Homo sapiens: one gene and its partner. The protein of the gene in region 2 interacts with the protein of the main gene of each other region in a pairwise test. Each region holds a gene or a part of one and is shown on either strand. Other genes may lie near its edges.

Region 1 (3,748 bases), on a different chromosome or scaffold from region 2:
GGTTTAGTCTCCTTTTCAATGGCACTTTCTCCCTCATTGAAATGAGAACAGAAATCTATCTGATATTTGTATGTAAGGCCCTTTAGATCTGAGACCCTTTAAATATGCCATGTTCCCAAGGCGGCAGGAGGGGGAGTCTGAGCCTGGAGACAGACCTTTTCTGAGGCCTTCCGTGCTGAGGTGCAAGACCCGGGGAGCAAGAACTGATAATGTGGGTCATCCTGGGACATGAGGGAGCCTTTGAAGCTGGAGACAGGCTGACTCCCCAGCATCCCGGAAGCTACGAGACCCTCACAGGTAGAATTCAGTTTGGTTCTGCTCTAGCACCAGCTCTATGCCAAGGTGACTGGGACCCAGAAAATTTCCAGTAGCTGGATGGATTCTAGAACCATCAGATTCAGTTCTAGGGCAAACAAGAAGCCTGATCCCCAGGTTAAGCAGACTCTTCTTCCAGGGCTTGGAAGAGAGGAGTGATAGCCTTGGTACCGCCATGCCTTAGAGAGGAAGAAGTATACAGGAGCCCTGGACAGGGGTTCCTGTACAACCTGAAGGGTCCTGTGGTGTCACAGTGCTAATATCTTAGGGACCTACTTGAGAAGGGCTGCAGGCAATAAAAGCAGCCAGACAGCTGCAAAGACAAAAATAGACCCACAGTAAACAGGATGTCTTCCTGTCTTTCTGGGACATAGTGGAAGGTGGTGGGGGAGGGATTAGGGAGCCAGAGATAAGCAACTGCTTCCTCCCAGGCTTGAAGCCTTAAGGGGGTCCATGCCGACTGTTGCCGCTGCGGGTAGATGGGTGGGAAGTTTCCTCCAGCTTCTGGGAAGTCAAGGCCAGGAGACCAGCGGTGGGTGGCCTGCCGCTGGCCCTCTTAACTACACTCTCATTACCTCACCTGGAAGTGGAAGATCCCTGCGTAGTTTTCGATGAAACTTTGATCATGGGGTATGACTCGGAAAAGAAGGTGCTGGTTCAGGGTCAGGCAGGCAATGGCTGCGAGAAACCAGCAGTCCCCTGCAGGCAGACACAGGGCACAGATCGTGAGCACTCCTGCTCCTCCTGGGAAGAAAAAGCCCCAATCCCAGCCAGCCACTCCACTTCCCTGAACGGGGACTCCCTTGGTGCCCACTCTCCTACTTCCAGATCTGACCTTACAGAGGTGTCAACCCAGGGAAGGAGAATTGGACAGGAATTCCTTGACAATATGATCAACAGGTAACTTACTCCCTTGTGACTAGACATTTTCCTCAAGGCTGCAGGCAGTTCCTCCAACTGCAGTATAAACTCACTTCCTTTTTAGGCCTCAATGGAGACAGAGCAGTAGGTGATCATAACTGGGTTGTTCTTCCTAACACCTGTAGGAAATCTGCCCTGCCCTGTGCCTTTGCAATGTGAGTCCAATTCCTCTTCTGACTTCAGCGAAGACTGAGCCTCAGAGAACCATCCACCAAGATGATTTGTATTGGAAGGAAGGCCAGGTAGGCAGCTGCCCTGGAACCCGTCTATAGGGGGCAGTAAGACATTGCTGGCAACGGAATGAGCTCGGGACGTTTTCTTATTCTCTGAACCTCTTTTCTGACAGAGTACTGTATGTAGTTGGAGGTAACACTTTGCTCTCTTTCTCTCTCTCTCTCTCTCTCTCTCTCTCTGTGTGTGTATATATATATATAATAGGGGGTGTACCTGGTCACAGAGCTGCCTTCTAAGGAGGATGGGTTAAGTGAAATGCAACTGAGAGTGTGCAGGGGAGACTGAGAGCTGCCTGCAGCCACTCTCCCCTACCCTCCTTGGAAGCAGCCAGTCTTTCCTTGGAAAGAGGTTATTGGTTTGAAGGTCCCAGATTATTATGCCCAGGGCTCTGCAGGAAGCCTTCCCTCAGGTGCAGGAACCCAGATATTCATCTGATTTATTCTCAGCCTCCCCTTCTGGAATGAAATAAGCCAAATTCCTTTGGTCTTAGGTGCCCCCTTTTCCTCAAATTTAAATTGTTTCTGTTGGTGTTCTCTCCAATTTTACTTCACAGAGCTTGCTTATAGTCCACACCAAAGACAATACTTTCTGAACAAGAGGTCGAGAGAGAGGAAGATCAGATGGAGCAGTCAAGCTAACCAATCAAAGAGAAAATTGGATGCTCATCCACATGGCGGATGCCATCTTTGTGGAAAGACTCTTTTAAGATGGAGCTATGCTGGGGCAATTTAAACAAGGGTTCCAGTTACAAGTGCTTTCCTTGGCGATGCCTTTTGTGTGTGTATCTAGAATCTCCATGCCCAAGGGGCATGCTTGGTGCACAGTCACAGAGCTGTCTTCCAAGAAAGACGATACAGTGAAAAGCAGGGCTTTTGTCATGCTGAGTGGGGTATGTAAGTGTCCTTGAGATACTGGAGAGGAGGCCACAGGATGCAGATACCCCCTGTGATGCATGGCAGAGTGCTAAAGAGGCATGTAGGAGGAAATGAAGCAATCGCCAGCATGTAGATAAACGACCATAAAGCAACTGTTATAAAAAATCTTCCAAAAAGTTACTGGAAGCAAGCACAGATTGTCCCTTTACCTCCTGGAAGGGGATCACACCTTGTAATCACCCCTTGATCATCTGGCAGGATCTGACCTGAGGCACTTTCCTACCTAGCTCTCCTTGACAGATGTCAGTTCTGTTGGCTCCATCAATGATAAATCGGGGATTCTCGCAAATTTCCTGTGAAACAAAAAGGAAATGACCAGGTAAGAATAACAGTAGATAGACAGATAGATAGATAGGTATTTTTTTGAGACGGAGTCTCACTCTGTCGCCAGGCTGCAGTGCACTGGTGCAATCTTGGCTCACTGAAACCTCTGCCTCCGGGGTTCAAGTGATTCTCCTGCCTCAGCCTCTCGAGTAGCTGGGACTATAGGCATGCGCCACCATGCCCAGCTAATTTTTGTATCTTTAGTAGAGATACGGTTTCACCATGTTGGCCAGGATGGTCTCCATCTCTTGACCTTGTGATCCACCCGCCTCGGCCTCCCAAAGTGCTGGGATTACAGATGTGAGCCACCGCGCCCGGCCGCAGTAGCTATTATTTATTGAGTTCCATTATGTAGTGTTCCTGATAGTATTCCATTTGGCCCTGTGAAGGGAATACTATCATTGTTATTTTTCAGATAAGGAAACTGAGGCCCAGAGAGGTTAAGAAACTCGTGCAAAGACACACAGCTAGTAAGTAGCAGAAGCCAGAAACATGCCTCCTTTTTACATTGTCCCATGCTGCTTCCCACACTGTCATACTATTCGAGTAAGGATGCAACTTGAGAGTTAGGGCAGTGTCGGCTGGGCGTGGTGGCTCACACCTGTAATCTCAGCACTTTGGGAGGCCAAGGCGGGTGGATCACTTGAGGTCAGGAGTTCAAGACCAGCCTGGCCAACATAGTGAAACCCTGTCTCTACTAAAAATACAAAAATTAGCCAGGCGTGGTGACAGGTAATCTCAGCTACTTGGGAGGCTGAGACAGGAGAATCAAAATAATAATAATAATAATAAATTAATAAAAATAAATAAAATATAGATTCAGTGTTTTGTATTGTTTTTGAGACAGAGTCTCACTGTGTCGCCAGGCTGGAGTGCAGTGGGCGACACAGGCTGGAGTACAGTGGCGCGATCTCGGCTCACTGCAAACTCTGCCTCCCAGGTTCAAGCAATTTTCCTGTCTCAGCCTCCCGAGTAGCTGGGACTACAGATGTGTGCCACCATGGGTGGTTTCCATATTC
Region 2 (3,748 bases):
CCAGCTTTCCAAAGATGTGTTATGGGTTTTTCCTTTACATGAAGAACACTTTTTTTTTTCAATCTCTATAGACACCATGCTTAATATGGTTTTTAATCACACGAAAATCACTTCAGTGGCACATCAATCCCATATTTTAAAATAACCATTTGAGCTTTTTTCTGGGGAAAGTATTTGCCACCTTTACACCAACCTGGATGCATGCTAGTTATATATCATTTCTTTTCCAATGCATTTTCAAGTTGGTTTATCACATTATTAGCAAGCTCATCAAAGTACAATAAAACAACACTGATCAGAATGAGAAAAGGGGGAAGTTCATGAATTCCATAATGTTGGGTATTTTAGATTTTAAGAAGCCCAAATATATTTCCATAACTACTTAAAGATCAAATTGCCCACATTTGAAAAAATATGTCTTAAAACAACAGGCCAGTCTACACAGTAGGTAATTTCTGAGTTATCCAATTCTCTATATTAACTCCACTAGGATGAATCCAGTGGCTGGGAGAATAATTTTTTGAAAATTCTGCATCCGTTCCTGTTAGTTTCAAAAGGTATCAAGCGCCCCAGCTACGCGTTTGGGATTTCACGAAGTATTCAAAGGAAAATAACTCAGAGAGGCGGGAAGAACGCACTTAAAAGTGACGAGCTTCCTAACCTCCTCCAGTTCCGAAGTTTCCCCGTGAGCTCATCGCTACTGCCCACTGAATGCTTCGTTTTGCAAACAGAAACGAAGTAGGAAAAAAATAAGTTCCAGCCTAGATCTGCCAAACAGGGGTCCCCCATCTAAAGTGGGCGGGCAAGAGAATTGCCAAAACACATCGGCTACAGTCACTTTCAAGTTTCTTGCAAAAAAGCGAAGACCAACATCCCAGAGAGTGACTCATCTGGGGGCTTTGTAAGCGGACTTTGTTTGCTCTCTCCACTTGGTTGGAGGAAACGTTCGAGGTGGGCGAGAAAGAAAAGCGCTTCGGGAGAAGGTCGGGCCTCCAGGAGTCCCGGCCCCCACCGCTCCCCGCCTGCCCCGGGCCGGCCCGGCTGGGGGATTCCCCAGGCTGAATGGGACGGCGGGAGAGCTGGACAGAGGGAGAAGGTGTCAGCTGCCAAGGCTCGGCTGAGACTTGGGAAAAAAAAATGTAAATCCAGTGAAAAAGTTTGGGGAGGGGATACACACTCACAACATCCGCCCCCCCAACTGGGTAAACACGAGAGGGGTGGTGGCGGTGAGGGGGAGTGGCGGGGAACCTGGGGATACCCGCTATTCGCGGGGACACGGGAGGGGGTCAGAAAGTCAACACACGCACGCACACACACAAAAAGACGAGGAAGGTGAAAAGAGAACAAGCGAAAGATGGATGAAGTGGCGGGGAGGAGACTCAGGGCAGGACCTGGGGACCTCCTCACCCCACCGTGGGGGACCGGGCCGGCACGCAATGGCCCAGCAGCCCGCGCTATCCAGCGGCCCGGCGCCCTCCTTTCTCTGGGCCGCGGGGTGGTGACAGCGACCGGCCTCCTCCCTTCCCCTTCAGAGCGAGAGGGAAGGGTGTGTGTGAGTGTGTGTGTGTGCGTGTGTGTGCTGGGGGGCCCCCGGGTTCACCCCGCGGCCTGCTATCTCCCCCGCACCCCGTGAGGCCGCCTCCTTTCACCTCAGCAGCCCCGCTTCGCCGGGGCGGGCGGGCGGAAAAACAAAGGGGGATTAAGGCCGGGCCGGAGAGCGGAGCCGGGAGGGAGGGGAGGAGGAGCGCCCGCCCGCCCGCCAGCCCGGGGCCCGGCCCCCCTGTCCCCCCCGTGCCCCCCCGGGGGGGCCCCCAGTACCTGGAACAGGAACGCGGTCCAGTTGGCCTCCATGGCTGCGGCGGCCGACCCCCCTCCTCCCCACTCCCCCCGCTCGGGGAGCCTCCTCAGCCGGAGGAGGCGACAACAAAGCGGCGGCGGCGGCGGCGGCAACGGCAGCGGCGGCTCCTCAACATGGCAGCGCCGAGCGCGGCCACTTCCGGTAACCTCCGGGACGCACCACCGCGGCGGCGAGCGCGGGCGGGGGGGGAGCCCCGGCCCGGCCGCCGCCGCCCCCAGTCGCCCGGACCCCCTCTGGGCGTCCCCGCTGCCGGCTCGCCGCCTCGGAGCTCAGCCAGTGCCCGCTGGCGGTGGGGTCAGGGCCCCCGCGGGGGGGCTGGGGTGGGGCCCGGGGCGGGGATGGGGCGCGGCGTCCCCCCCCGCGGGGGTGTGTGGTGCTGCGGTCCGTGGCTCAGGCAGCTGGAGCAGGGGGAGCTCAGGAGAGAAGATGGAGGACGCCAGGGTCTGGCGCTGGCCCGCTGGGCACAGCTGGGCCGTCTCCCGTGACTCAGACACGGTGTCCAGCACCGTCGCGTCCCTGTTAGACCCTCAGCGGAGGGCACAGGCCACGGCGGACACTCGGCTCTTCAGTCGCTCATGCACAGCATGGTCCCCACCTCCAAACTGGGGGAAGCCCTTTCGACTTCGAGCCTCTCTTCCTTTTGGCATTTCCTCCCCGGCCGGCTAAGCCCTCTGCGCTCTCGCTATGATATGCATCTCATGGCGAGATGGCCTTCCAACTCAAGCAGGGAATCCCACTGGGGTGCAGCCTCAGATCCTCTCAGTGTGGAGGGAAACACTTCCCACGCGTAGAGATGTCATTACTGGGTTATTCTTGGGTGAAGGGCTGAGCCTCCCCATCCTCCCCTTCACTCCAAGATAGGATGTGAAATTCTATCCCAACACCCCTCCTCTCCCGCCAAAAATAAAAACAAGTGAGATAGTATAGACAAATTATTTTAGTCCTTTAGTACAGTCTGTTTCCTCCTTCACCCCCAGAACAAAAATCGAACTTCTGGTTGGACAGCGTCAGATGTCACTGAGGTGACCCCAGCCTGTTTGCAGTTCCAAGTCTTCCGTGTAGGCGTCACTGCTACTGGAACTTTGTAGATGAGGAGCCTGTATGATGATGTCCTGAACATTTCTATCCTTTCCTCACACAGAGGGAAGCTACTGGGAATATCAGAGACAAGCTATTATTAAACAAGTGTCTCTAGTCCAAGACATCTCCTGTGGCAGGGAAATGAGGGGGCAGGCTGTATCAGTGATATTTTTATAAACTCTGGTTTTAGAAAAAATTCTTCAGATGGACGCATTATTTTAAGACTTTAACATTTTCCAAAACCAACTGAATCTTATCCCCTCCATTTATCCCCCTCCAGACACTTCTAATCAAGGTCACCATCTCCAACTTCCCCCATAGACAATAAAAATATGGCTGGAGAATTCTACTGTAATAGAAAACCAAGGAGATATAGTAATTTGACAGTGTGTTTCCTTTCCATCCACTAGACAAGAATACCCCCTCCCATTCTTTCCTCCCCTCAGTCACCAGAATGAAGGGGCTGGAAAACGTTGGTCTGGTTCCTTTTAGAGCTGATTCCCCATTGGATACTGCCTGGAGGCCTTGGGGATGAATGAGAAGTTCTGCAGTTTGGATCAGTAGCAGAAGCAGGTAACACATCAGGGAACCGGTCAGCCTAAGATAGGAGGGGACAGAAAATGATGAAAGAGTTTCTGATACATTTATCAGCTAAATTGCTATGGTCACCCCCATGTCTCCTGTAATGTCCAAACCTAAGGAATTAACTAAGTAAACTAAAACCTTTGTGTTCTTGCTCTGACCTTGGACAATGGAATTCTTCTTATTTTCATTCAGTGGATAGCAAATCTGCTTCTTCCCTGCCTTAAC

The links.
Region 1: the proteins of VEZF1 (region 2) and CAPN3 interact in binary tests that used the Homo sapiens proteins (3 or more experiments, as listed by UniProt).

What each region holds. Positions count from the first base shown.
Region 1 is NC_000015.10:42,383,433-42,387,180, reverse strand, and holds part of CAPN3 (calpain-3), read right to left. Parts: intron 2,699-3,748; coding exon 2,629-2,698; exon of another isoform or gene 2,024-2,628; intron 1,479-2,023; exon of another isoform or gene 1,362-1,478; intron 1,216-1,361; exon of another isoform or gene 1,150-1,215; intron 1,015-1,149; coding exon 896-1,014; intron 1-895. UniProt on the Homo sapiens protein: Calcium-regulated non-lysosomal thiol-protease. Proteolytically cleaves CTBP1 at 'His-409'. Mediates, with UTP25, the proteasome-independent degradation of p53/TP53.
Region 2 is NC_000017.11:57,986,261-57,990,008, forward strand, and holds the start of VEZF1 (vascular endothelial zinc finger 1), read right to left. Parts: upstream 1,995-3,748; 5' UTR 1,852-1,994; coding exon 1,819-1,851; intron 1,691-1,818; exon of another isoform or gene 1-1,690. UniProt on the Homo sapiens protein: Possible transcription factor. Specifically binds to the CT/GC-rich region of the interleukin-3 promoter and mediates tax transactivation of IL-3.